Regions from separate parts of the Homo sapiens genome. Here regions 2 and 3 are each linked to region 1. The links come from fine-mapping of genetic effects on gene expression. A gene starts in region 1. Each other region holds a variant in brackets. All regions are shown on one strand. Distances are from middle to middle.

Region 1 (9,978 bases):
ACCACCTGTAAGTCTGTCTGTATACCAGACTTTGGAAAGCACTGTTTTGGGATAGCATAAAAGGTAGAGAAAATGCTTTATTAAATGATTAGGTATTTTGGGGGTATGATAGTCCTTACTCTGTCTCCTCTGAGAGCTCACAGGTTATCTAGGATGATGAAGCTTTGGTTGTTTAATGGCCAGCTGGATGATAGAGACACCAATCCCTTTAAAAAACAGAATGGAGCCGTCACTGTTATGGGTAGCCATTGCCCCAGCTTGTGCAGGTCTTCTGGGGCTCTAGCTGTCAGTCACCCAGTTCTAAGAAGTGCTTTTCCTAATCAAATGGAAAAAGTGGAAGCAGACACTCTCCAACTCGGAACTCTGCCTCTCACACTACAATGTATGCAGCATACTAGCTCAACTGCTTTCCTAGGTACCATCCAAAATTAAAACTAGTGGCCGGGCACGGTGGCTCACTTCTGTAATCCCAGCTACTTTGAAGGCTGAAGCAAGAGAACCGCTTGAACCCGGGAGGCAGAGGTTGCAGTGAGCCAAGACCGCACCACCACACTTCAGCCTGGGCAACAGAGCAAGACTCCATCTCCAAAAAAAAAACCAAAAAAACAAAAATAAAATTAAAACTAGCTACTGCAATACTGCATATTGGATTTCCATGCCTGAATTTTTTTTTCCATTGCTATCACACAGCCTTTTCAAAAAGTTTAATAGTAATACCACCTTAGACCCTCCCAAATTCACTTTCTATATGGGCATCTACTAAAAAGGCTGATTGCAAAAATTCCTATGAGGGAGAAACAGGCCCTAAATAGCTTTTTAAACCTTAACAAAGTTCACATAACCATTGATGTGTTTAACCCACTAAATGGGTGTTAAATCTAACCTCTGAGTCTGTGTTTCTGACCCTAACCCTTGGATTTAGGATCAAGACAAAAACTCAGTAAAACACCAGAGAAAACTGTTCTGCTTCCCTCCACTCCCATCTGGGGCAATCTCACCCTCAGACACTACCATATACCAAATCACCTTCTCTGGAAAATCAAGGCTGGTTGGTCCAACAACTGTTGGGCCCCTGATTACTGCTTAGAGTCAAATCAATGAGGCATGTTATTGGGAATCAGCTCTCAACCTAGATAAATTCATCTGTAGCCACAACTGCTTAATGGGATTCGTTCTAGAGATGAGGCAAGGAATTCCCTGGTGGCTCATATTGTTGGTAGAATATGTTGAAAGTTTCAGCAGTGATTGCGAACCCTTCTACCGCTTCACCCCGCCCCCACCACACCCAAACTTCATGCCTCTCCCCAACCAAGTCTGCATGACTTTTTAAATTACTATTTATATTACTACACATATTATTGTACACAGGACTAAAGTGGCCCCGCCTAGTTTCAATAACTTGTGTCTCGTAAAAAGATAACCTTCTTAAGGAGAGAAAACCTTGCTAAACTCAAAATCTCCCTTGCCTTCAGCAGTATGCAGAAAGTTCTCACACTTGTCCTGAAGAGAAATGGTTGGCTGTGAACTTTTGTCAGTGTACAAAGAACTAGATCAAAAGTTAAATGTAGGCAGAAGTCATTGCAAATGCAATTCCCCCGGGGGTGATGTAAAAATTCATTGGTCTTAAGCCTATGAATGCCTCAAAAATAGTTATGGGGTGGGATGTTTACTGGGAAACTGGTTCGCTTCTTTTGTAGGGAAAGTCAAGTCATTTAATACATGAGGGATTTCTGACTTCCCCCCACCCAAAGCTTCGTTATGGCCTTCAAGGCCTTTTAACAGAGTGTGAACAACAACTCTTTCAGTTTTTTCCTGGACACCTACCTGGCACCTCCTACTTGTATCTTTAGATCTCACCTCCCTTATCAACCCAGGACCCAACACTTAAGAGTTTTCAGCACCCGTTTTGTTCCTATTACTAGCTACCACCATTTACGTAGCATCCACCACATGCCTTGTACTCTCTGTCATTTCATTCAGACCTCACTCAGCCCGGTGAGGTGGGCGCATTACTGGCCCCATTTTCTATAGTGGCTTGCTCGGGTGAGGTAACTGTTCAAATGCCCTTTATTCCCAGCAAGAATCCCCTGAAGGGAATGCATATAGGACCAATCCCACTCTTTGCTAAATTTCTGTATTGCAGAGTGTGCATCGGCATCATACATTCCCTCCCTCAGTCTCAGGAATCCCGACACAGATTGCAGAGTAAAGTCTAACAGTTTCAGGTCCACTAGACCCCTAAATGCAGAAATTGAATCTTGTTCATCTTTGTATCCCCCACAGTGACTGGCAGGAGTAGGGGCTCATTCAGTATTATAATATCTGGATGGTACTGAAAAAGTTACAGCAGCATTTCAGAGGGGAAAGTTCCCCTTCATCAATCTGCATAAGTAGCTCTGAAAAGAAATAAAGTGGCCCCACTGCAGAAGTAGTTCTGAAAAAAACACAAGAAACACCTCAAAAGCCACCGGTGCTTTAGTAAAGCACCTCCGCTTCTGCCATCTCCCCACAATGAGGAAGCTCCAGTACCCTGTCCACATTTCTAAATGGCACTCATCGGATTCTTAATGAGTTGCAGGCTTTCCCAACGGGACTGTGTGACAGAGCCACGCTCTTGCTCATCTGCGTAATCCCCACACTGAAGTGGAGTTGTTCATGAAAACTTACTAAATAATCAAATTTCATCCTCTCAAGCAGGATATGCAGTGGTACTTTGCTACAAATACATTTACCACTACGAATTTCTCACTTCAAGCGATCTCCTGCCCAGGTGTGTGCTCTCAGAAAATTACATCTCTTTCTGAATTACGCTGGCAAAGGTGGACCTGTTTTCCCAAAAGGACCGTCAGCACACCCAGCACAGACCACCTGGGGAGCTGAAGAAAACGACCTCCCTCCCTCCTCCCCGCTGGGATTCCCCGGGCTGAGAGCGTGAGTGAGAAGCGCAAGGCAGTTTCTATCATGGGATGACTCTCCGCTGGGAACTTCAGGGAAACCACAACCATCATTACTCAGGCCAGACAGCTGCCAGAAAAGCAGCCTAGCCTAAGAACTGAAGCTGAAATAGAGGTGGGAGGCTGTATTCCATTACTAAGCGCGGGAGCACTCACTCCCAAGTTTGTCCACATTTCAAGAATGTTAAAACCCTGTGGTAGAAATCCCTGATTATTTATAACTTAAACTACCGTGTAAAAGCAGAAACTTGACAAATGAAGACATAAAAAGAACTGGTGACAGGTAGGCTAGTACTAGAATACAAAGCATTCATCACACTCCTCTTTTGTGGGTCCTTCCAAACCTCCATCCCCATTCCCTACTGGAAAAAAAAAAAAAAAAAAACAACTTTTACTTCTATTACAGACGCAGCTGATTGAAAGGGAAAAGGGATTCTGCTCTGTGATGAGTTTTCAGTTTCTCTCACGTACACAAGCCTGTAACTTTGCATCAATACCGAGTGTGGTTTGAAATAGAGAAGGAAAACACAAAGACATGCAAGCGACACAACAGACACGAGATGCCTCCAAGCCAGCAGAAATCCAGGACACCGGGTTCAAGACAGTGTCCCCTACTCGCGCCTTAATCTCCAGCCCAAGTGACTTCAGAGTAAAGGTTCCAGGAGCCCCGGAGGCCACGAGTCATCAGCCCGGACGGTGAAACCTACCCCTCCCCTGCGTCCCACGTCCGGATGGGAGAATCCCAGCTTCCTACGGCGCATCGGGGAACAACTTCAGAGCAGCACGCGAGCAGAGCCCCCAGCGCTCCCACGCTCACGCTCACGACCCTCCTCCCAACCGCGCGGCACAAGGAGGCACTTACGCGGAGCCAACCTGACAGCTCCCGCCGGGGTGGAAACCCGCGGTCTCCTCGCACCGGCATTTCGGACACAGGTCCCGCGTAGGCGCGCAGCTCCGGACCCCGCTTCTGCTTCTGCTCCTGCTCCTACTCCTCCTGGGCACCACCGGACAGTGCTCTGACCCGCAGCCCAACCGCCGGGGTGCCGACCCGCGGGGACCCACCCCTTTGTCCCTCCTCCCGCGGCGGCGGCGGCGTCAGCCCGCCCCCGACCCGAGCGTGGCGCCTCCGCGCTGGCCGCCCGGCCCGGGAAACTGTCAAATTGGCCGCTACCACCCACGCGCCTGCCGGGGAAGGGCTCGCCGGCGCCGCGCCTTCGAGGCTCCTGCGGCGAACCGCGTCACGCGCGACTCCTGGCCGGGGGCGGGAGGCGGCGGCGGCGGCAGGAGAAGCCCAAGGCCCGAGCGGCCCGCAGCCCCCACGCCTGCACCCCTCCACCCCCGCCAGCCCGATGGTTCGCTCCGCGGCGTGCACTGGAGCAAGCAGGTCCCGCTCCGAGCGCGCGCGCTCTGGGAAGTGCTGCAAGTTTGGAGACCTGGAGTGAGCTCCGGGCGCTGCTGGCCCGACTGTCCGCGGTGTTTCCCCGGTGAGGTCGCGGGGGCATCCTGTAGGAAGACTTTTTGGCGAGGTTCGCAGGGCCTCACACAGGCAGCTTCAGTTCTCCTACGAAGAGTCGAACTGGGAAAACCTCAAAGTTTTAGGTCCTGTCTAGAGGCCTGCCCGGCTAACCAACACATACACGGCCTTGTACCCCACATTTCTCAGCCCAACAACTGCCTACCCGAATTCCGAGGGTTATAAGATGTTCGTATTAAATATTAAAACAGGACTTTTCAGGACAATATATTCCAGGTTATCTCTTTGGCACATTTCCAACAACTCCAATAAAGAGATTGAAACTCCTCTCCCATCATCAGCTTATAAAAGGTTGCCAGTAGGTCACAAGTGCTTATCTGACAGGATTCATCTAATGCAATTCAGTGTGCTTATTCCTTTCGAAGTCCTCCATGTGCAAAGAATTGTGCAGTGACGTTAAGTGTCTTTATTTTAAGAGCATATAAATTAATTTGGAGAATCCAAACAGGTACCGATTAAAAATATAACCTTGGGTTTGAAATCTTAAAAAACCATCTTGTAAGAGAATAGTTTTGCCTGCCCTGCTCTTCCCTTAATTGGAAAGCAAAACTCGTCCTAGGCTCACAAGTAGAAGGTAAAAGGTGTGGTCTGTCCCAGAGGAGATGCAGATGCTGGGCTCTCTCCCTGAAAAGTTGCTTCACTTCCTGCCTGATCAAAACAAGTCTAGAAGTTTCGTGGAAAAACAAGTCCAGTAGATGCCTCTCCAGAAGTGTTATGCTTCTGGACTCCTTTGGAGTAACTAAGTCCACGCCTCTGGATAAAAAGCACTGTGAGTAACGTTTCCCACTTTGCCTCGAGTCTCCGGACTTAGACATTTTGGTTGTATTCCTGATGTAAGGCATTGCTCTCCTGATCTAAGCACCTATTTATAAAATGTTTCCCAAATCTGGCCAGGCACGGTGGCTCATGCCTGTAATCCCAGCACTTTGGGAAGGCAAGGCAGGAGAATCACTTGAGCCCACGAGTTTGAGACCAGTCTGGGCAACATAGTGAGACCCCATCTCTATTTTTTAAAAATTGTTTTAATCAAAAAAAAGGAAAAAAAAATAAAATATTTCCCAAATTAGGTGGTGCTGACTAATAAAAATGATAGCACTTGAAAGGTGGCCACACCTTAATGATGTGGGCTTAGAGCCACTAACATTTAAAAAATAATCCAGAATGTGGCAGTTACATCTACTGACTGATTTCCTTTTTTCTCTCTAGAGCGGCACTGTTCAATAAGATGACCACTTGCCACCAGTAAGTGTTTACATTTACATGTAAATTAACTAAAATTAGAGGAAATGACAAATTCAGTTCTTCAGTCACACTTGTCTCATTTCAAGGGCTCAGAAGCCACATGTGGCTAATAGCTACCCTATTGGACAGTGCAAATATAGAATATTTCCATCAATGCAGAAAGTTCTGTTGGACTGCACTACTCGAAATGATGAAATATTTATAGACAAACTCCATTCTTCTGGCACAACACCTGACAGATGATAAGCATTCAGTAAATGGTTGTTAGAAACACGGTTCAGTTGATATATTAGCTTTTTTGCTGGTGGCAGTGTAAATCAATACAACTCTTTGGAGAAACAATTTATTAGTCATCTTCTTCACGTGTGGGTTTGCACATTTTGACCCCACTCCTAGAATGTGTTTATCCAAAGAACTTCTACTCCGCAGGGCGCGGTGGCTCATGCCTGTAATCCCAGCACTTTGGGAGGTCGAGGCGGACAGATCGCGAGGTCAAGAAATCAAGACCATCCTGGCCAACATGGTGAGACCCCGTCTCTACTAAAAATAACAAAAATTAGCTGGGCGTGGTGGCGCACGCCTGTAGTCCCAGCTGTTCAGGAGGCTGAGGCAGGAGAATCGCTTGAACCCAAGAGGCGGAGGTTACAGTGAGACGAGATTGCACCACTGCACTCCAGCCTGGTGACAGAGCGAGATTCCGTCTCAAAAAAAAAAAAAAAAAAAAAAAAATTCTTCTACTCAACAGGTACTTACTGAACACCTCTGTCAACCCCTTGATAAAATACTCAGGATCCTGCCTTAGGAAACTCAGTCTATTGCAGTAGACAATCAACAAGTAATGATAAACTGTGTAAGCACTGAGATTCCTGGCAGGCTCAGAGTGGTCTAGCAGGAGAGACTTAGGGAAGGCTTTCCAGAGATGGGGTTGCTTATACATTCTAAAGGAGAGGTCGGAATGAGTTTTTAAGACACAAAGAAGGAAAAAAGCCTTCCAGGTAAGGGGAATAAATAACACAGAGAGAAGTAAGGAAGGAAGAGACAGCAGGCTTACTCTTGAGGTGCCAGAAGGTGAAGTTGCCCAGGCAAGTATAAAGATGGATTTGACAGTTGGTGGGGGACAGGGGTTGGTGGGGGAGGAGAATGTTAGTAAGAATGACAAGACCGGCCAAAAATGCATTTTTGTGGGAATGCAGGTGAGAGATGACGTGGCTATGAAGTTAGGCAGTGTTAGACAAAAGGGAGCCAGATTCTAGAGAAACTAAGGAAGTAGATCAGCAGGCTGGATGACTGCCTGACTAGATATGGGGAGACGCGAGCGGGAAGTGAGCCTACGCTGACTCTCAGGTTTCTGGCTTACTTAAAGGAGATGACGGTGGCTTTTATCAAAACAGAACACAGGAGTGGGAGCAGATCTTGGGAGGAGCTTGAAGAAAGATGATGAGTTTAGTTACAGACTGATTTTCAAGTGCTATGGGTCATCCAGGTGAAGATGTTCAGTAATTTAACAAATATGTATCAAGTGTCTCCTATGTGCTAGGCACTGATGAGTATTTGAGGAGAGAGATTTGGGAGTGATTTGGGTATCATCAATGTATCATAAAAGTTGAAGTCTTGGGAGGGGACAATCCCACATTCAGAGACGTGATGTAGATTAAGCCAAGAGAGGACTAAGGACAGGACTCATCTCTGGGAATGCCAATATTTAGGGGGCAGACTTGAGTTGCCAGAACAGAGACCAAAGAGGAGCTGCCAGAAAGGAAAGAAAACGCTTCTGGAGGAGAGTGTCCAAAAAGCCAAGGAAAGAACAAACTTCAGGAAAGAGGGAGAGGCCAACAACATGGAATTTCGAGGAGGTCAATTAAGGTAAGAACTGATGATGTTCATTAAGTGGAGGACCACTGCTTATCTTGGCCAGAGCTTTTCAATGGAAAGATACGACTGGAGGTTAGATTACAGTGGATGACTAGGTATGAGGCAGCACTTCACTATATGCCTGTATCTAATAATGAATGATGGAAACCACCAATGTCCAATGATGGTGGGCTGGGCTATTAAATTACAGTAAATCAACATAATTGGCATAGCAGACCATCATTTAAAATTGTAATAAGGAAGTCTATACAACAAGGAGAATGATAATGCTATAATTATCAACAAAAAAACACAAATTACATCTAATGTATGATGATGACAGTGATAAAATTATAAAAAAAATAAAAACTGGAAAGTATGCAAAAAAATGACTTCATGAAAAGACAGGCTTGTGCATATATTTTTCTTTTTAAATTTAGTTATTGTTTGTGCAATGGACAATTTTTTTCAACTTTTCAGTGTATATTACAATATATAAGGTCTCTGAAATAGGTTGGTCAGCTAGGTGCAGGGGCTCATGCTTGTAATCCCAGCACTTTGGGAGGCTAGACAGGAGGATTGCTTGAGCCTAGGGATTTGAGTCCAGCCTGGACAACATAGTGAGATTCTGTCTCTACAAAAACTAATAATAAAATAAAATTACCTGGGCATGGTAGCATGTGCCTGTAGTCCCAGCTACTCGAGGACTGAGGGGAGAGGATTGCTTGAGCCCAGGAATTTGAGGCTGCAGTAAGCTATGACTGCACCACTATACTGCAGCCTAGGTGACAGAGAGAGACACTGTCTCAAAAAATAAGAAATAAGTTGGTCAGAAGACCTTAATGAGATAAACTAAATGCCTTTTAGTCATATTTTCTCAAGAATGTGGAGATCTTAAGAAACATATCTGTGTGTGTGTATATATATATATGTATATATCTGCAATATGGTTATAAAGTATCATCAACTGGGAGCAAAGAAAACTAACACTGAAAAGTTTACAAGTTCAGCCGGGTACGGTGGCTCACGCCTGTAATCCCAAAACTTTGGGAGGCCGAGGCGGATGGATCAACTGAGATCAGGAGTTCGAGACCACCCTGACTAACATGGTGAAACCCCGTCTCTACTAAAAATACAAAAAAATTAGCTGGCATGGTAGCAGGCGCCTGTAGTCCCAGCTACTTGGGAGACTGAGGCAGGAGAATCACTTGAACTTGGGAGGTGGGGGTTTCAGTAAGCCGAGATCACGCCACTGCACTCCAGCCTGGGCGACAAGAGTGAAACTCCATCCCCCCCCCAAAAAAAAAAAAAAAGAGAAAAGTTTACAGGTTCACCAAACAATTTAGTTAACGTGTACACTGTAAAGTAGACTGGAATCGTAACTCTCCTTTAACAAACCTTTCTTGAATGCCTACCATATACCCTGGGGTAGCTATACAGAAGATAATGACAATTTATAAAAGGGAGCCTGCTCACAGTGTGTTGAAGACAACGATATGTAAACACATTGTGACACGTTAGGAGAATTGCTCAACTACAGAGATGACTAAAGTGCTGAGGCAGCAGCTAAAACTCCGCCAGAAGGACCTGATGTTTTTTCAGTAAAGGCCTTGTGTCCTCCCCCGTCCCCGCCCCCACTTCCAGGTAGCCTCATCTCCTCTCCTGGCTCCACCCATCTTCCTCAGTCCAAACACCAGTTAACAATAACCACCCGGTTCACCTGCAGGCTTCCTCCCACAATAATCACCCCACTCAATGGCCCCTGTGATTACCTCCAGGAGAGCGGCATCTAACGTTCTGCTTCCCCCTTATGCTTTCACTTTTAGTTATTATATATTACTTTCTTTTTTCTTTTTTTTTTTTTTTTGAGACAGTTTCGCGCTTGTTGCTCAGGCTGGATTGCAATGTGCAATGGCGCCGTCTTAGCTCACTGCAACCTCTGCCTCCCAGGTTCAAGCGATTCTCCTGCCTCAGCCTCCTGAGTAGCTGGGACTACAGGCGCCCACCACCACACCTGGCTAATTTTTGTATTTTTAGTAGAGATGGGGTTTCACCGTGTTGGCCAGGATGGTCTCGATCTCCTGACCTCAGGTGATCCACCTGCCTCAGCCTCCCAAAGCGCTGGGATTACAGGCATGAGCCACCGCGTCCTGCCCTCATGATCACTTTCAAAGTTTGTTAAAGTCCTCCTCTTTTTTCTTTTTTGAGGGTGGGGGTAATTAACTTGTACACTTCCCAGATCCTAAATAGCTTCGACACTGTTTTCAGTTGTACACAGAGCTGCTTCTAATGCCATATGCCCTCTGACACCCACCCCCAAGAAATAATAGACCTGTGAATTGAGATGCTCCTCATTCCAATACATGATGGTTCTAGAAATAGAGAACAAAGCTGACT
Region 2 (9,978 bases), 160 kb after region 1:
TCCTTTAATTTATGCTTCTCTAAGTTCCTAGTGCTATTCCCTAGGGGTAATCACTTTTGGCAGTTCTTATATGTCAGAAGATATATTTTTAGGTAAGCAAGTTGGGCCTATTTCTAGGACTACTTTCTTTTCAGGTCCCAAAAACATTACAATGCTCATTATCATGTGTGTCAAGCCACTTCTATAAATATTATGGTGGCCGGGCACGGTGGCTCACGCCTGTAATCCTAGCACTTTGGGAGGCCGAGGCAGGCAGATCACCTGAGGCCGCGAGTTCGAGACCAGCCTGGCCAACATGGAGAAACCCCGTCTCTACTAAAAATACAAAATTAGCTGGGCATGGTGGCACATGCCTGTAATCCCAGCTACTCGGGAGGCTGAGGCAGGAGAATTGCTTGAACCCGGGAGGTGGAGGTTGCGGTGAGCCGAGATCGTGCCATTGCATTCTAGCCCGGGCAACAAGAGCAAAACTCGGTCTCAAAAAAAAAGAAAAAAAAAATTGTGGCAAAATTAGTGGTACCAAGGGATGAATGATTGCCCAAACTTTAAATAAATGTAGTACTTTATAAATTATTGTCATTAAGTTATTTCTGAACTTCCTGACTCCCATAATTTTTCATCTTTCATATAACAAAGGCCACGCCAATTTTTAAATCAGCATTTTATAGATCATAAATCTGACATAGAAACTTTGTGTTCAAAAATGTTCTTTTACAATATTCTGCTAATAAGGAGAAAACAAACTATTAATAGAAGCTGGCTTGTCAAAATCCAGGTATGATAAGTATTTCTGGACCAGAACATGCAGTGTTATGTAAATAATTCCCTGAGTGATAGAGATTTGTAGTTTATTTCTTATTTGAATCCTGGTGGAGTTTGTTCTTTTCTTTGCTCCCATCAATATTTTGGAGATAGAGAGGAAGTTAGAATTGAATGATCCAAGCCTTATGCAATTAGCCATTTGGAAACTGCTATATAAACAGTAAAGAGGAGAATCAGCTGGCATGACTGCCAGTGAGCAGTTTTTTGGGAGAAGAATGGTCTTGATTGCCTTTCATTGGGCATACAGGAAAGCAGAGTTGGCTTTCACCTCTTCATTTGGCCCCCTAGGCAAGCTCCAAGCAGATCATGCAGAGGTATTGTATCTTGCTACACAAATCTTTTCCTTCTGAAAGGGTTTATCTGAATGCAAAAGGATTCCTGTTTCCTTGGCATGCTAAGGACTCCCTTGCTCCCCAAGGCCATGGAGAAAAGCAGAACGGAAAGTGGAGAGAAATAACAAATGTAATTATTCTGCAGCTTGTTCTGGGATAAATACTTGATGTTCTGACCTGTAAACGAAGCATGGGGACATTTCTAGTGTGCAGCATATGTTCCCTCTAGACCCCTGTGTCTTCCTAATTGAACTTCAGAGATTAATGCCACAAGAATTTGTCATGGAATGGCACAGCCTGCTTCTAAACAAACTGTCCCACTTCCAAGGCGTCGGTCCAAGAGAATGGCTTCCCACTAATTGCTCTTTGTGTATAAATTTCTACTGAATAATCTGGAGGTAAGTCAGAAATGGGCAGAATTTTAGCAGATCTACTGTGATGAAAATGAAGAGGAAATCACTGAGATTATGGGGGAGACGTGGAATTTCCATCTGCCAGGGATTTGCCTTGACCCAAAGCACAAGGGGCAATTGACCCCCCTGCTATGTTCTTGAGGGAATGTGGGTTTCCCTTTTGTGGAAGTTCAGATGATCAACAGTAGATTTTTCTCCTTTCCTCTTCTTCCTCTCTAACCTGACCGTCTCTGAATATACAGTCAGTACCCAAGTACTGGCCCCAGATTAAACCGTAAACTCGGAACCAGGCCTTGCACACAATAGACACCTGCTTGACCAACATCTGCTGAACTGAGCGGCAAGAATTCACAGTCACAATAGAAACCTTCTACTTGGAGTCAAGTAATCAGGGATTCCTCTCCAATTTGCTTGGTTTCAGCCTGCAGGGCTAGGTGAAAGTGTGTTGTTTACTTGCACTAGCTACAGGCGGTGTAGCCAGGGTGGGTAGGCAGAATTAGCTGTCAAACTTAAAGGGCAAGATGGAGAGAAAATAGGAGGATAAATGGGTATTCCTGTAGCTCAGTGTTTATGATGTAGGACAGAATCTTTGTACAGAATTGACTGGGGAGAGCAGCTCAGAACCCACCCTGTGATGGCTGAGTGCTGGCAGTCTTCTGGAGGGTGTGTGGGGCGGCTGACATGGTGGCCTGGGGGAGTGATGGAAGGCCCATCATCTATGTACTTTGACTTCTCATAAACTCCTGTGGCATGTTTTTAATAATTGATAGAATAAGTAAACAGAAAGTCAATAAGAATATAGAAGACCTGAACACTACTACTAGCCAACTTGACCTAAGTGACATTTGTAGAACACTGTATCCTCAAACAGCAGAATACACCAGAATATACATTCTTCTCAAGTGCATATGGGCCATCTACCAAGATAGATCATATTCTGGGCCATAAAATGAGCCCCAAGAAGTGTAAAACATTTTAGGTCACACAGAGTATGTTTTCTAACAATGGAATTAAATCAGAAATCAATAGGAAAATTCTTGAAAAATCCCCAAGTATTTGGAAACGAAATAATATACTTTTAAATAGCTTATCTGTCAAAGAAGATGAAAAGGGAGCTTAGAAAATATTTTGAGCTGGATGAAAAGGAAAATACAACATACCAAAATTTGTGGGATGCTGCAAAAAATAATACTTAGGAGGAAATTTATAGCACTAAGTGATTGTAATAGAAGAAAGATTTCAAATCAGTGACCTTAGTTCCCACCTTAGGAAATAAGAGCAATTAAACCCAAAGCAAACAGAAGAAAGGAAATCATATGTATGTGTTAAAATAAAACATTACATGCAGTAAAACTGAATTTTGGGGGGAAGTATACAGTTCTTTGAGGTGTTTGTTTGTTTGTTTGTTTGTTTTTGAGATGGAGTTTCACTCTTATTGCCCAGGCTGGTGTGCAGTGGCACGATCTCTGCTCACTGCAACCTCTGCCTCCCAGGTTCAAGCAATTCTCCTGCCTCAGCCTCCCGAGTAGCTGGGATTACAGGCATGCGCCACCACGCCTGGCTAATTTTTTTGTATTTTTAGTAGAGACGGGGTTTCACTATGGTGGTCAGGCTGGTTTCGAACTCCTGACCTTGTGATCCGCCCGCCTCGGCCTCCCAAAGTGTTGGGATTACAGGCTTTAGCCACTGCGCCCGGCCAGTTCTATGAGTTTTAAAACAAATGTAGACCACCACCCAATACATTGTAACCACCAGCACAATCAGGATACAAACATGTCCCACCACTTCCCACATTCCCTCAGGCTGTCCCTTCATAGTCCAACCGTCCCCTAACCCCAAGCCCTGGCAATCACTGATCTGTTCTCTCACACTATAGTTTTGCCTTTTCTGGAATGTCATAGAAATGGATTCATACAGTAAGTCTCCTTTAGAGTTGGCTTCTCTCACTTGCATAATGCCTTTTGGATTTATCCATATTGTTGAGTGCAGCGGCGTGATCTTGGCTCACTGAAGCCTTGACCTCCCAGGCTCAAGAAATCCTCCCATCTCAGCCTCCCATGTAGCTGGGAATATAAGCGGAGGCCGGGCGGGGGTCGCAGCGCCGCAGCCAGCGCAGCCAGCCCCAGGGGGCGCCATCTCCGCCGCTGCCGCCGCCGCCGCCGCCGCCGCGAGACCCCCGCCCCTGCCGCCGCCACCGCCATGGGCAACGCCCCCGCCAAGAAGGACACCGAGCAGGAGGAGAGCGTGAACGAGTTCCTAGCCAAAGCCAGAGGAGATTTCCTCTACAGATGGGGAAACCCCGCTCAAAACACCGCCAGCTCGGATCAGTTCGAACGGCTCAGGACGCTGGGCATGGGCTCCTTCGGGCGGGTGATGCTGGTGAGGCACCAGGAGACCGGCGGCCACTACGCCATGAAGATCCTCAACAAGCAGAAGGTGGTGAAGATGAAGCAGGTCGAGCACATACTGAACGAGAAGCGCATCCTGCAGGCGATCGACTTTCCGTTCCTCGTCAAGCTCCAGTTCTCCTTTAAGGACAACTCCTACCTGTACCTGGTGATGGAGTACGTGCCGGGTGGGGAGATGTTCTCCCGCCTACAGCGCGTCGGAAGGTTTAGCGAGCCCCATGCCTGTTTCTATGCCGCCCAGGTCGTCCTGGCCGTCCAGTACCTACACTCGCTCGACCTCATCCACCGCGACCTGAAGCCCGAGAATCTCCTCATCGACCAGCAGGGCTACCTGCAGGTGACGGACTTCGGTTTCGCCAAGCGCGTGAAGGGCCGCACTTGGACCTTGTGCGGGACCCCAGAGTACCTGGCCCCCGAGATCATCCTGAGCAAAGGCTACAACAAGGCCGTGGACTGGTGGGCCCTAGGGGTGCTCATCTATGAGATGGCCGTGGGCTTCCCACCCTTCTACGCCGACCAGCCCATCCAGATCTACGAGAAGATCGTCTCTGGGAGGGTGCGGTTTCCCTCCAAACTCAGCTCTGACCTCAAG[C/G]ATCTGCTGCGGAGCCTGCTGCAGGTGGACCTCACCAAGCGCTTCGGAAACCTCAGGAACGGGGTTGGCGACATCAAGAACCACAAGTGGTTCGCCACAACCAGCTGGATCGCCATCTATGAGAAGAAGGTGGAAGCTCCCTTCATCCCGAAGTACACAGGCCCTGGGGATGCCAGTAACTTTGACGACTACGAGGAGGAAGAGCTCCGGATCTCCATCAATGAGAAGTGTGCCAAGGAGTTTTCTGAGTTTTAGGGGTGTGCTTGTGCCCCTGTGGGTTTTCTTTCCTTTTTGTTTTTGGTGGTTTGGGGGATGGGAGGGTTGGATTGAACAGCCAGAGGGCCCCAGAGTTCCTTGTATCTAATTTCATCCTCACCCCACCCTCCAGGGTTGGGGGAGCAGGAAGCCCAGATATTTGGAGGAACAGAAACACCAGCTGCTCCCTCACCCCCCCCCATGCCTTCCTGGTCCCTCTGTGCTTCTCTCTTTCTCCTCCCACAGGGTCCCCCTTGCCCCAGCCCCCTTCTGCCTGTTTTAAACGAGTTTCTCAGCTCTATTCAGGCCAGGTCTTGCTGTTGTATCAAGGGACACGGTGTGGAAAGAGGGGCTCAAACTTAACTCCAGCCCTGAACAGGCACCACTTACTAAGAGAGGATGAATGAAAAGCACACCTACCCTTTGGCGTAATCCTGCCTGGGAAGGAGAGAGGTTTAGTGCCATGTTCAGTGGGCTGTTTGCTAGAATAAAAAATTAAAACAAAAAACAATTAAAATCTTATTTAAGTTCCACCAGTGTCCCCTTTCCTCCTTCCTCTACTTCCACCCCTCCCACCCTTCCCACCTTACCGTGTCTCCCCATTCCATTTTAACAAATCCAGGAAGCCGACTGACTTTGGAAGGAGGCTCTGGGGTTTGAACTTCCCCCATGAACTGCTGATTTCCCCCTCCCCCCTCCCCAGGGGCATCCTCTATCACTCTTGCAAAGGTCTCAGTTCTTTTAGGAAGCTCCACTCTCTTCTTCCCCAGCAGACTTTTCTTCACCCTTGGGCTTTGGGAGCCAGAAAAGCAGCTGCCCTACTCCCTGCCAAAGAGGAGTTGTCCCCCAAAAAGACAGAGTGGGAGTTCCAAGCCCAAGTCTTTCTTCACAGCAGCATTTCCCCGAAACTCCTTAATTTTATTCTCAGCCAGATTGTGATGCCCAGCCTCTCCTTATGGGAAGGCAGTCCTGCAAAAGGACATGGAAGAGGCCCAGCCCCTCCACCCCCACCTCATCGCCCAGGGTTCAAGGCTAGGGTTGCTGGGGAGGGGCTGCCTGTTTTATTCACCCAGCAGCTTCTGCCTTCTCCCATCCTGGGTGCCCCTCTCCAGCTTAGCTGTCAGCCATCCTTCACCTCTTCTCCCCTGCCACCCCGTGCTGTTTTCAATTTTTTTTTTTTTTTGACATGAAGTCTCACTCTGTCACCCAGGCTGGAGTGCAGTGGTACAATCTCAGCTCACTGCAACCTCCGCCTCCCGGGTTCAAGCGACTCTCCTGCCTCAGCCTCCCGAGTAGCTGGGATTACAGGGGCCCACTACCATCCCCGGCTAATTATTGTATTTTTAGTAGAGACGAGGTTTTGCCACATTGGCCAGGCTGGCCTTGAACTCCTGACCTCAGGTGATCCAGCTGCCTTGGCCTCCCAAAGTGCTGGGATTATAGGAGTGAGCCACCGTCCCTGGTCTGTTTTCTTTCTTAATAGAAAAGTGAGGAGCTGCTGGCAAGCCACCTCATTCATCTTCATATTTCCCCCTCTCATCACTTCTCCCCATCCCAGGAGGAGCTCTCAGGCCTGGGGTGGGTCCCCAGGTGGGCTCAGGGTGATTCAACCTGCTTGCTGTGAAAAGATGAGATTTCCTCTTGAACAGTGTGCTGTTGTAAACATATGTCAAAACTATTACCAATAAGGCCGGGTGCTGTAATCCCAGCACTTTGGGAGGCCAAGGCAAGTGGATCACTTGATGTCAGGAGTTTGAGAACAGCCTGGCTAACATTGCAAAACCTCGTCTCTACTAAAAAATACAAAAATAGCTGGGCGTAGTGGCATGCACCTGTAATCCCAGCTACTTGGGAGACTGAGGCAGGAGAATCGCTTGAACCTGGGAGGCAGAGGTTGCAGTGAGCCGAGATCGCATCACTGCACTCCAGCCTGGGTGACAGAGTGAGACTCTGTCTCAATACAACAAAACAAAAAACCAACTATTACCAATAAAGTTTTGTTAAAAAAGAACTGGCAAAACTAATCTATGATGCTGGAAGTCATAATAGTGACCTTTGAGGATGGCATTGGTGGAGAGGGGACATGAAAGAGCCAGCAGGTGGCCAGGCACGGTGGCTCACGCCTGTAATCCCAGCACTTTGGGAGGCCAAGGCGGGCGGATTACGAGGTCAGGAGTTCAAGACCAGCCTGGCCAACATGGTGAAACCCTGTCTCTATTAAAAACACAAAAAATTAGCCAGGCATGGTGGCAGCTGCCTGTAATCCCAGCTACTCGGGAGGCTGAGGCAGGGGAATTGCTTAAACCCGGGATGCAGAGGTTGCAGTGAGCTGAGACTGCACCACCGCACTCCAGCCTGGGCGACAGAGCGAGACTCTGTCTCAAAAAAAAAAAAAAAAAAAAAGCCAGTAGGTTAGCTGCAAATGTTTTCTATGCGCTTTAGGTGCTGGGCACATGGGTCTACACATATGTAAAAATTCACTGGACTATACAATTCATAGCTGTGCACTCTAGCATATGTAAGTTATACCTCAGTCATTAAAAAACGGTTGAAAATGTTGAGGTTTTTTGAGACAGGTGAGACAACACAGGCAGGCCACGGGTGATTCAAGTGGGGATAGAGTTTTGAGGATCACAGCCTCATGGTATTGAAACGGCTTTTGAGTTAGGTCTTAAAATAAAGGTTCTTAACATTTCTTGGGTCCAGGTCACTGTGAATTTGATAAAAAGTATAGTCTTTCTCTTCATGAAAAAAAAAACACCCCATATACACAAAAGCATACCCAACTTGTGTATATGATTTCATGGCCCTATTAACATTTATCTATGACTCTTCTAGAAATCAGTGGGTCCTAGGCTAAGAACCCTGCTTAAATGGGTAGATTTACAAATGGGAGGGGGGAAGAGTGGGATTCACCTATGAAAACCCATGTAGTAAGGGAGAGTGGTAGCACATATGAATACTAGAGAGAGGCAGAGGATCCTCAATCATCCACTTCTGCAGAATTCCCTGTTGACATCCTAACCTAGGATGTAAGACATCCTAGCTTTCCAGCACTGACTCTGCAGGTGAAACTGCTACTTATGCTGAGTAACTATGGCTCTGGGCTACATTTACAAAAGTTTACAGCATGCTTGCTTACAAGAATCAGCTTGTTTTAACTCGAAGTATTTAACACTGAGCATCTTACTCATCAGGAATATCTTTCTGCAGCCTTGATCATTTTGCTTTCTAATGATTTTTCTCTCAACCTCTTATGTCTCTGTTGCTAGGGACACTTACCAGGTGGTGTAAACTGTATTAATTAATTAAAATATTCATTGCTGAGTCCATTCCCATGTGAGAAGTGTACATCCCACACCTTTGACTCCAGACCTGTCAATGTCACTCATGTTGGTGGATGGAATGCAAGTAGAAATGCTGTCAGCTGCACTGAGACAGAAGCTTTGTGAGCTCTCATTGGTTCCACCATTGCTCTTTTTCTCTGCCATGAAAGTTGCCTGTCCCACATAGGGGCTGCTCTGGACCCCAGAATGAAGAAGACTCTTGGAGCAGAGCTGCAGCTGGTCCCCACATGTGAGGGAGACGTAAAACTATGTTGGTGAAAGCTCCTATGATGTTGGGATTGTTTGTTACCATAGCATAACATAGTGAAAGCTGACTAATATACCAGGACATTTGGGAAAGTCTTTGGATGAGTTCAGCAGAAGCTGCTATTGAAGTTTTTCCCATTTTTATCCATCATGAAATTCAGTTTATTTAGGATTTCTGAATATCTCAAATGAGGAGTATTTGGGTTATTTTTAATAAAAGAAGAAATGGAAAGACCATAAATCACTGGAATCGATGTACCACCACAATTGAGAACAAAATATTTTATTTCTCTCACAAAACTATAGTTTACAGTAGTATTTACTAAATAAATTATATAATTTCTCTTTTACAAGCAATAAACTAGATCACAAATATTTCAAAGACAATGTATGTACACGACATAAGGCCTTTTATAAATAGCTTTGCTTTTCTCATTTCACTAGTAAACAGTGAAAAAATCTTTATAGAAGCTAGTTTTCTATAAAGTGAAGGCAGACCTAGTATATTGATCTTTAAATGAAACCAATTTAAACTTTCAATGACATGAACTATAATTTTGCAAAAGAATTTATACTTAATTTACCATGTGTGTGGATGGATTTTTAAAAATATATAAGCAGATTACATATGTTGCTTATGTATAATCACTGGATGCATGCACAATGAAATAATGCAAAAGTCCATAGGAAAATAGCACTTCCAACTCCAAAAAGGTGATTGGCAATGGTACAGAAAGCAGCTTAAATATAGTTCATGCAGTTCTTCACAGTTCAGCAAGCAACAGCAAATGATAGAATAGGGTAGTATTTTTCACATCCCATCTGCTGATCAGCCTGAAGTTGACATCTTGAAAACTCTTAAGTCAGGTTGATGATTTCTCTGTGTGTAGTGGGGCTCAGCCAAGTTGCTGTGGATAATTCTGGTGCGGAGAAACTTCTCTGCCATAACTGTGCTCACGTCTCATCCATGTGCTTAGGTGATCACCATTTTCACTTACTGGGGGGAGCAAAAAAGCAGGTGTGAGACTAGATTTTGGCATCAATTTGTAACCTCTCCCCATGAGTCGCAACATAAGTTCGTTATTTCTCCCAATCACTTGTGTCTGGAAAATGGGGTGCATTATGTTTGGGATTCTTCTGCAATGATCAGCATAGCATATACTTCTTTGGTGGACCTGAAACCTGTTAATTACACCAATGTTTATCAAGATTGAGTCCTGACTACATCACAGCACTGTGCTCGGGACTTGGAAGGAAGCAACACTGACTAAGACACCCTCCTGCCCTCCAAGTGCACAGGGATGAGGGGATGTGCTGTGGTATATTAGATCTGAAGCCAAAAAGAACAACTTGAACATGGCCTTGAACTTGTAAATGTTTTTTTCCAAACAATATCACTGTGGCTGGGTGGTAACAATATGTTCAGCAAATGGTAGCTATTTAAATGGTAGCTATTTAAAATCAGAGCCAGCTAACTCAACCTGTGACAGCAGCACTATGATATATGTGGGGAAAGCAATATTATATTCAGCCTTTAGAGACAGACACATTGGGTCAAATCAT
Region 3 (9,978 bases), 87 kb after region 1:
GTGGCCTCAGATGATCCACCCGCCTCGGCCTCCCAAAGTGCTGGGATTACAGGTGTGAGCCACCACGCCTGGCCTATGTACTGCCTTTTATAATTTAAAAAGCAGTCTTATGTATGTTTATACAAAGGCAGCCTCTATAAGCATATAGTACACACTATGACCATAACTCTTTCCACAATGCATTTTATTGATATACTTTTCTATTTCTTTTCTATCTCTGTATTTCACTAGACCATGAATTCCTTGAGGGGAGGGAATGTGTTTGTTAACCATTGTATCCTAGCACGTGGCCTGGTTCAAAATAGGCAATCAGTAACGGTTGAATATATGAATTATTAAATAATGGCAAAAATACAGTCCTTCACAGTTTCCTTGTCCCAGTTAAATTTACTAAGCCAATTCTTTAATATAAACACAGGTCCATCAAGGGTGTGTGCCACTTCCTACCATTTTAAGTATTTTTTTTAATCAGGAAGAGCCAGAGGCAAAAGTCATGAAATTAACCACATGCGAGCATGCACACGCACAAACACACACACACATACACAGATAGGCGCAAACATCTAATTAGGAAAACCAAAACAAAACCAATTTACAAGCCTTGGCTCATCATCTCAATAGCTACTTGCACTAATCCTATAATTTATGTCTACTAAACACTGTTATTTTCCTTCTCTGGGCATTAGGCAACTTGGGAAAGGATTCCAGAAAAAATTCAACACTACTGACACTCATGATTATTAATATTATTAATACTGTTTATTTTTTTAATGGCCAGTCTTCTAAATGCTTGTATCCAACCTTAGAGAAGAATGTATTTTATAGGATTGCAGCCAAATGCAGCCCTGAACGCTATCTACTGGGAGTCTTCAGCCTTCCCAGTACTAACCTGACTTCCCAAAGCCCCTGGAGATCTCCCTTCTTTCCAAGGGGAGCCTTGGGATTCCTTCTTTTTTCACATCTCCTTGTCACTGAGACACCCCTGGAGCAGGACAAGGGAAGTGTCCACCTATTCTACCTTCCTCCTTTCTCAGGCCAAGTGTCATTTTCGGAGGGCGGGGGCAGGGAGTGGGGGGAAGGAGAGGAGGGGAGGGGTACGGGAAAGGGATGTAGTGGAGGGAGAGTTAATGCCTGGTTCTGCCTTCCTCCCTCCCCCAACCCAGCGGATTTCCTTCCCAGGGCAGTAGCCAGTGGCTCCAGGAAATAATTACCCTTATCAGCCCCCACTCTGAACAGTAAGAAAGGAAAGGTCTCAATTCTTCCCTGAAAAGGAAGGGAATCTCAGTCTACTTTTTGGTTTTTCAAATAACCTGTCTTAGCACCTCTAGGGCTCATCCTAACATCCCCAGGGCTCTTGATTTCTCTCCTGATGCAGTTCTTGGATCTTAGTTTACATAAGAATGCCCCAGTGGAGTCAAGGATGCAGCTTTTTCTTCTGCCCTGGAGTTTATCAGGGCTTTGTATGGTTAAATGACACTCTTTGGGGGTCTGATGAGTTTCTACCTTTTTGTACCACTTACACTTTTTACCTTGGGCATGGAGTGGTCCTGACAAATCTTTCTGAAACTCTGGTGAAAAATTCTAAGTGAGAGAAGGGGAGCCAGAACAGAAGCTGGGGTTTTCCTCCTGAGTGGTGAGGGGGCAGTGAACCACAAAGATGAAGACTGGATCTGGTGTGAAGGGATGGGGGCTGAGCTCCATTTACGTTCCAATGAGCATCTAGAAAGGTGTTTGTTTTACTGGGATGTTTTTATGGCACCCTGCAATATTTTAATTTTTCCCTTATTCATTCTTTTCTAAAATCCTTGGAAGATCCCACTAGGGCTGTTCTTGCCTTTAGAACTGTGAGACTAGTGAAGCAGAGAAGCTTCTCTAGGAGCAAATAGCAGGGTAGAACACCCCCACCTCCACCCTGACCCATCCAGACGCTGCTAACACAGAGCGGGAGGCCGGGTTGAACGTCCCCCTCCCTATTCCTCCTTTCAGGGTCGGGCACACACCTGGCTGGGATAAAGGAGTCAGGTCATTTGAAAGGCTCATCTCTCTATTACCAGGGGAGGGCGTCCAGGTTCCTGGCGTCTTGAACAAAGAATTAGATAAAATGCACAAAGCACAAAGAAAGCAAGGAAGGAATGAAGGGATTTATTGAAAATGAAAGTACACTCCACAGTGTGGGAGCGGGCCCGAGCATAGGGGCTCAAAGGCCCTGTTACAGAATTTTTGGGAGTTTAAATACCCTCTAGACGATTCCATTGGTTACTTAGGATACGTCCTATGTAAATGAAGAGGATGAAGTAAAGTTACAGGCATACGCCCTATGGAGAGGATATTTCCTGTCATAGCTGAAGTGTGAATCGGCTTATGTTTTCTGCCTCCAGACCCTATTTTCCTGCCTCATCTCTTTCTTTCTTCCATTCCCTGTGCCACACAGAAGGGTTCCTTTGGATTTCCAGGGACTGTCAGAGGTGTCCTAACCAGAGTGACTCCATCTTGAATAAAGGCCGAATAAAGCCAAACCTGCTGGGTTACATTCCCCAGGAACTGGGCACTCTTGGTCATGAGATGTTTATGATTGAGGGAATGAGTTAATGTTGCTAACTAAAGACTCAGAACTTATGGAAATGTCCCAGTATTTTAAGAACAAAAAGCATTCTTAAGGAATAGGTTTTGCCTTAAATATAATAGTGTACTCATAAATTCTTGCTGAAATCAATAGTAACAGGAAAATAACAGTACCAATAGCCTGTCACAAGCTGATCACAAGCCTTTGTAATAAAGTACACAATTCTTATACAACCTACATAAGCAAGCACTACATTTAAGGTAGCGCCTTCCTCCTCTTGTTTTCTGAGGATGCCCTACTCTGTAATTGAGTAGCCTCTAATTAACTATCTTAACTTCATTATACTCTGCGACTTACCCTGAATTCTTTCCCAGGCAAGATCCAAGAACACTCTTGGGGTCTGGAACAAGACCCCCTTTCTGGCGTCAGGACTGGGCACCAGATCTGGAAGAAGCAGGACTCAGGCCGGGTGCGTTGGCTCATGCCTGTAATCCCAACACTTTGGGAGGCCAAGGCGGGCGGATCACCTGAGGTCAGGAGTTCAAGACCAGCCCAGCCAACATGGCGAAACCCCGTCTCTACTAAAAATATAAAAATTAGTCGCCGGCCGGGCGCGGTGGCTCACGCCTGTAATCCCAGCACTTTGGGAGGCCGAGGCGGGTGGATCATGAGGTCAGGAGATCGAGACCATCCTGGCTAACAAGGTGAAACCCCGTCTCTACTAAAAATACAAAAAATTAGCCAGGCGCGGTGGCGGGTGCCTGTAGTCCCAGCTACTCGGGAGGCTGAGGCAGGAGAATGGCGTGAACCCGGGAAGCGGAGCTTGCAGTGAGCCGAGATTGTGCCACTGCAGTCCGCAGTCCGGCCTGGGCGACAGAGTGAGACTCCGTCTCAAAAAAAAAAAAAAAAAAAAAAATTAGTCGCCGGGTGCGGTGGCTCATGCCTGTAATCCCAGCACTTTGGAAGGCCGAGGCGGCCGGATCACGAGGTCAGGAGATAGAGACCATCCTGGCTAACATTGTGAAACCCCGTCTCTACTAAAAATACAAAAAAATTAGCCAGTCATGATGGTGGGTACCTGTAGTCCCAGCTACCCAGGAGCCTGAGGCAGGAGAATCACTGGAACCCAGAAGGCAGAGGCTGAAGTGAGCCGAGATCGTGCCACTGCAATCCAGCCTGGGCAACAGAACAAGACTCTGAGAAGAAGAAGGAGAAGGAGAAGGAGAAGAAGAAGAAGAAGGACTCTGCAGG[T/G]GGCACACAAAATTAGATGAAAAGAATAAGGGGACCTTAAAGGGGGAAGAAAAAAATGGGAAGTCCAAATGGAGAAAGATTCCTTAGATAATAGCTAGGTGATGTTATGAGGGGTCCTTGAGGGTCTAGAACAGGTCTCTCCTGCCAAGGGGAGAAGCAGGATGGATTGCGGAGAGCTAGTAGGCCAGGAGAGTGCAGTGGTTCTCTTTAAAGAAAAATCTCAGGACCCTTTATATTCTTGAGTTATAGAGGACTCCATAGAGCTTTTGTTTGTGTGTTATATCTATCCTTTTAATCATATTTAAAATTAAAACTGAGAAATTTTGAAAATGTTCATCTGTTCATTAATTTAGAAATAATAGCTGGGTGTGGTGACTCATGCCTGTGGTCCCAGCACTTTGGAAGGCTGAGGCAAGAGGATCACTTGAGCTCAGGAGTTCGAGATCAACCTGGGCAATGTAGCAAAACCCTATCTCTACAAAAAATACAAAAAAAAAAAAAATTAGCCAGGCATGGTTGCATGCACTTGTACTCCCAACTACTCAGGAGGCTGAGATGGAGGATCGCTTGAGCCTGGGAGTGCGAGACTACAGTGAGCCGTGATCATGCCACTGTATTCCAGCCTGGGGGACAGAGTGGGACCTTGTCTCAAAAAAGAAAAGAAAAAAGACATAACAATCATAAACTCACTTGTTTATATGGTTAAAAGAAAACCTTAGACAAATTAAATTTAACCGAGTTTAATTGAACAGTTTGAGAATTGGGCAGCCTCCTCAGCCAGAGTAGGTTCAGAGACTCCAGCACAGCCACGTGGTGGAAGAACATTTATGGACAGAGACAGAAAAGTGGCGTACAGAAAACAGAAGTGAGGTATAGAAACAGCCAGATTGTTTACAGCTCAATATTTGCCTTATTTGAAAGCAGTGTCAAGAGTTGACCTCCTTTGATTGGCCAAAATCCAATGTTTGTCACAAGAGTAGTTCACAGTCTTGTTTACACATCTGGGTAGGCTACAATTCACTAAGTACAGAGAAACCTTTAGGTCAAGCTTAAACTATATAAGGAGGCAGCTTTAGGCTAAATTTGATTTAACAATATTAATGACATATTTATGATAAATAACTATACTTTTGAAACAAAACATATTTGGTGTGAAGAATGGGATCATTGCAGGACTTTTCCTTAGTTCAGCTAAAGAGAAGGTTCTTGTCTATCCCACAGCCACAAAAATTTAGGCTTGCAGATGGTTTAAAGGGTGAGTAAAGCAGGGTTTTATTAAGTGAAAAGGGGAAATAAAGGGATGAGGGGAACAGGGATCCTCTGCAAGGCCAGAGTCTCCTGCTACAGTGCTTCCCACCAGGCTGCTAGAATCCCAGGTTCACATAGGAAGAGGAGGCGCCAGGCTCCTCCCTGCTGCAAACTCCCAAGGCTCCACCCTAGTAGGCAGGCTGGTTGGAGTTTCTCCAGGGACCCCCTCCCACCTGGCTGTCAAATAATTATTTTAGAGTTTTATAAAACTCTGAGAAATAAAAATGAAATCCTAAGTCCCCCAGCTGACTAAACGGATGCACCACCTCTTGGCCAAGGGGACCCCAGAGAAACCTTGAAAACTGAGTTCTTGCCATGATGTGTTGTTATACCCTCTCCATTGCTAAACGCCATTAGGATTTCCTTCCTACAGGTTAAACAGAAACCAGCCCTTTGGAAAGACGAGCTGCACCGCTGATATCAACCAATGGTCTGACACTGCCCCTTCCTTTTGCAGTTTCTGCACAACTAACCAGCATTCCTTCCTGATAACAGACTGCCCACAATGGAGTGGTTCTGGCCAGTTTACAGAGGATGTGCAGTGAGGGTTTCTGTGTCCTCTGTTTCACCTTTTGATATCAGAGGACAGAAAACTCCACCCTCTGATCATGCTAATGCTGCCATTTTTTGCACACGCGTCCCATGGAGAGGCATGAAGCTCAATTGAGCATGTGCATGTTTCTCCTTTCATGAATATTCATGACTGTAGTTTATTGAATATGTATATTTGGCCATCCTATTCAGCATAAATGCCCATCTTATTCTTCTGACCCTCAGTGTCTGTTTTTGGCTTCTGGCCAGAGACTACATTTCTTAGCCTGTCAGAATGGCCACCCTGCAGGCTGCAATCTTTTATGAGAAATGAAGCTTTTCTTTCCAAATTTATGAATCTCAGAATTCTTCAGCTGACAATTGTAATGTTTGGCTTAATAGAAAACAGCTGGATTCTTCTACTTGCCTCTTCATTCCATCTGTTGCAATATGTTGTTTTCATTGGAGTATATGAAGAAAACCCAGCTTAAAGAGTTATGTAGTTGGAAAAAGGAGAACATTACATATCTCTGAAGAGATCTGGGGGACCCAGATGTTCACTTTTTTTTTTTTTTTTTTTTTGAGACAGAATCTTGCTTTGTTACCCAGGCTGGAGTGCAGTGGCATGATCTTGGCTCACTTCAACCTCCACCTCACGGGCTCAAGTGATTCTCCTGCCTCAGCCTCCTGAGTAGCTGGGATTACAGGTGTGCGCCACCACGCCCAGCTAATTTTTGTATTTTTAGTAGAGACGAGGTTTCACCATGTTGGCCAGGCTGGTCTCAAACTCCTGACCTCAAGTGAACCACCCGCCTCAGCCTCCCAAAGTGCTGGGATTACAGGCATGAGTCGCCTCTTCACTTTGAAAGCTGTTGGGATGAAGAAGCTCTTCTCATACTCTAGCAACTCCATATGACATCTGTAATGATGGGTGAAAATGTGTAACTGAAACTTAATGCATAAATAATATTTTATAAATTTGTATTCAGTGAGCTATCAATAAAATGTTTTCTTTTTAAAGTTTTGAATTTATTGTTTATAATTTACCAAATAATAAACATATGTTGTTTAGCAAGTTGTTTTTTTGTTTTTGTTTTTGTTTTTTTTTTTGAGACAGAGTGTTGCTCTGCTGCCCAGGCTGGAGTACAGTGGCACTATCTCAGCTCACTGCAACCTCTGCCTCCCAGATTCAAGCAATTCTCCTGCCTCAGCTTCCTGAGTAGCTGGGACTACAGGCACATGCTACCATGCCCATCTAACTTTTGAATTTTTAGTAGAGACGGAGTTTCACCATGTTGACCAGGCTGGTCTCGAACTCCTGACCTCAGGTGATCCACCCACCTCAGCCTCCCAAAGTGCTAGGATTACAGGTGTGAGCTACTGCGCCCAGCCCATTGTTTAGCAAGTACTACAAGGCTTGTTTACAAATGTCAAAAGACAAAATTACAATGAATTTAGTTAAATGATCTAATTGGCTTTCATTTGCAATTCATGGATCAGGGCAGCCTGTCTTCTAAAAATTCAGAGAAGGTACTCCAGTGAGCTGGGCAGAGGAAGTTAGCTTTATAGGCAGAAAAGGCAGAAGAAAACAGAAACAGGGACCAAAAAGTGGACGGTCTTTTCAAAGTTACTCTCCTAATACGGTTAAAACAGAGAGGACTTCCTTATATGCCAGCTAAAACTGGCCTGTTTGGGGATTTGTCTATTATTTCTCTCCCCTAATTTCCCAGAAGGTAAGATAAACTACTTAGCTTTGGTTTGGTGACGTGGAACTTTAGCAAGAGTGACTCCATGTGGTTTGGTCTATTGGGGCCTAGTGCAGGAGCACAGTCCAAATCAATGGCTTCCTACAAATTTTATTTGACATAAATAATAACAGTTCTCCCCTCCTCATGGGCAACCATTTTCAATTTTTCTAGCTGATTATTTTGAGATTTCCCTTAACATATCTAAATAAAATGAGTTTTCAGGCCAGGTGCAATGGCTCATGTCTGTAATCCCAGCACTTTGGGGGGCCAAGGCGGACTGATCATCTGAGGTCAGGAGTTCGAGACCAGCCTGGCCAACATGGCGAAACCCCATCTCTACTAAAAATACAAAAATTAGCCAGACATCATAGTGTGCAACTGTAGTCCCAAATACTGAAGAGGCTGAGGCAGGAGAATCTCTTGAACCTGGGAGGCAGAGGTTGCAGTGAGCTGAGATCGTGCCACTGTACTCCAGCCTGGGCGACAGAGCGAGACCCCATCTCAAAAAAAAAAAAAAAAGTTTGAGTTTTTGGTTCATATTAGGAATTATCAGTCTCCTTCCCACTCTAGATGATGAGATTTTGTTTCCTTAACCATTTTTCTCCCCATTTTCTGGCCATAAACATTCACATTCCTCCAAATGTTTTAAACTGGATTGTTGGTCAAATCACTATTTAGCATTTTCATTATAATAATGATGAAAACAATACCCACTGTTGCATTGTGTAACATAACAGGACGTTTCCTATCCTGTACAATGCCTCGTGTTTCCTAGTGTTATTAATTGCTTTTCTGTTTTGTTTTCTTTTTCCTTTGTTTTTTATTACATCACATTTTTTTAATGTTGAGGCTAGTTTTATTACAGAATGTCCCTTCACCATGTAGGAAAGGAAAAATTTCTGTTCTACCCTCTTAAGTTTCCAGCTAGGCCTAAGAATTAAACTGACACAGGAAAGATTAACAGTAGAAAAGCACGCAAGTCTTATTACAATTTTACATGTACCTGGGAGTCCTCACAAGCAAATGTAGACCCGAAGAAGTCACCATAGCAGACAAGTTTATATATGTTTTAGACAAAGAAATGATAAATTTGTGAAGAAATGACAAGACAAAGGGGCTTGGGGAAATTACTAAGAGCTATATTGGGGATAAGTAGTGGAAGACAAGGGTTATTCCAATAAGTTTGTTCAGATCCATTTTGGCATTGATTCCCTATCTCTGGTGATAAGGATGTTTTTCTCTTTCTAGTAGAGGGAGGGCACCTTTATCATGGGAAATTTTCTAGCCTGTTTTTAGGTAGAAAAGAGGAGGTTGGAAAGCCCTTCCTGTACAGTCTGCTGTTTCTCAAGTGCTTTCAGCTAATAATAATCAGTATGCCAAAATGGCATATTTTTGGGTGATGGCATTGTCTGAACTGCTTCAACCAGAATTTTAAAGGCTTTTTGTTATTATTGAGAACTATGAAGCTATTGTGATGAATATTACTTTGTATATGACCTATTTGTCTTGTTTTGTTTATTTATTTTTTCCCTCTCTGGTTACTTATATTATCTTTTTTTGTCCCTCATGTTATGAAAATTCATAACAATGTGATTTTGTATGGGATATTTTTCTATATGTGGAATATACCTGGAATCTCATGCCCTTCACTTTAAGGAAATGTTCTTGAATTATTTCTTTGATAATTTTTTTTCTATCTTTTCTGTTCTCTCTTTCGTGATTCTTCTCATTTGGAAGTTGACTATTTCCTATCTCTTAGTATTTTTACTGTAATTTCTGAACAATTTCAACTCTGTCTTCCAACTCTTTCATTGTATTTTTAAAATTTCTGCTTTCACATGTTTAAATCTAAAGACTGTGTTTTTGTTCTCTAAAAAATTTACGAGCCTGTAGTCCCAGCTACTTGGGAGGATGAGATGGAAGCATTGCTTGAGCCCAGGAGGTTGAGGCTGCAGTGAGCCATGACCACACCACTGCACTCCAGCCTGGGCAACAGAGTGAAATCCTGTTTCAATTAAAATATGTATATACATTTTACTTAGGGAATGACTGAAACTTCATTTCCAATCCCTTCCCTATAGGTTTGAAGGCAAAATAATTGAAAGAGGGATTATTATGGGACTAAATGAAGAGTAGTCTAGTACAGGCTCCTTAGAACTTGAAAAAGGGGACTGCCAATAGGCTGAACTAAGAGATGGAGACCCCAACTCAGGAGTTATTTCTTTTTGTTTTTGTTGTTTTCCTTCGACTTTTATTTTAGAATCAGGGGGTACATGTGCAGGTTTGTTACAAAGGTATACTGTGTGATGCTGAGCTTTGGAGTGCTAATGACTCTGTCACCCAGATAGTGAGCAGGGCACCGAATAGGTAGTTTTTCAGCCCTTGCCTCTCTAATAGCCCCCACTGTCTATTGTTCCCATCTTTATGCCCATGTGTATTCAGTGTTTAGCTCCCACTTTTAAGTCAGAACATGCATTATTTGGTTTCTGTTTCTGTGTTAGTTTGTTTAGAATAATGGCCTCTAGCTACATCCATATTGCTGCAAAATACATGATTACATTCTTTTTTATGGCAGCA

Evidence for each region.
Region 2: its variant is fine-mapped to the expression of TJP2 in whole blood (TOPMed, PIP above 0.99).
Region 3: its variant is fine-mapped to the expression of TJP2 in whole blood (TOPMed, PIP 0.99).

The regions. Positions count from the first base shown.
Region 1 is chr9:69,168,271-69,178,248 of GRCh38, reverse strand. TJP2 (tight junction protein 2) reads right to left here and starts at 3,972. Exons shown (of 23, transcript NM_004817.4): 1 at 3,817-3,972. The coding sequence starts at 3,876. LOC124902175 (a long non-coding RNA gene) reads left to right here and starts at 6,652. Exons shown (of 2, transcript XR_007061566.1): 1 at 6,652-7,593. RefSeq lists an enhancer at 2,874-3,063 and a silencer at 3,954-4,383.
Region 2 is chr9:69,007,881-69,017,858 of GRCh38, reverse strand. PRKACG (protein kinase cAMP-activated catalytic subunit gamma) reads left to right here and starts at 3,746. Exons shown (of 1, transcript NM_002732.4): 1 at 3,746-5,355. The coding sequence starts at 3,767. The coding sequence ends at 4,822. It overlaps PIP5K1B (phosphatidylinositol-4-phosphate 5-kinase type 1 beta), which reads right to left. Exons shown (of 16, transcript NM_003558.4): 16 at 8,683-9,412. The coding sequence ends at 9,410. The variant C/G (reference allele first, on the strand shown) is at 4,568.
Region 3 is chr9:69,081,742-69,091,719 of GRCh38, reverse strand. No RefSeq gene overlaps it. Among named protein-coding and RNA genes, the nearest start is that of FXN, 51 kb to the right of the region's middle. RefSeq lists enhancers at 506-1,475, 2,753-3,253. The variant T/G (reference allele first, on the strand shown) is at 3,815.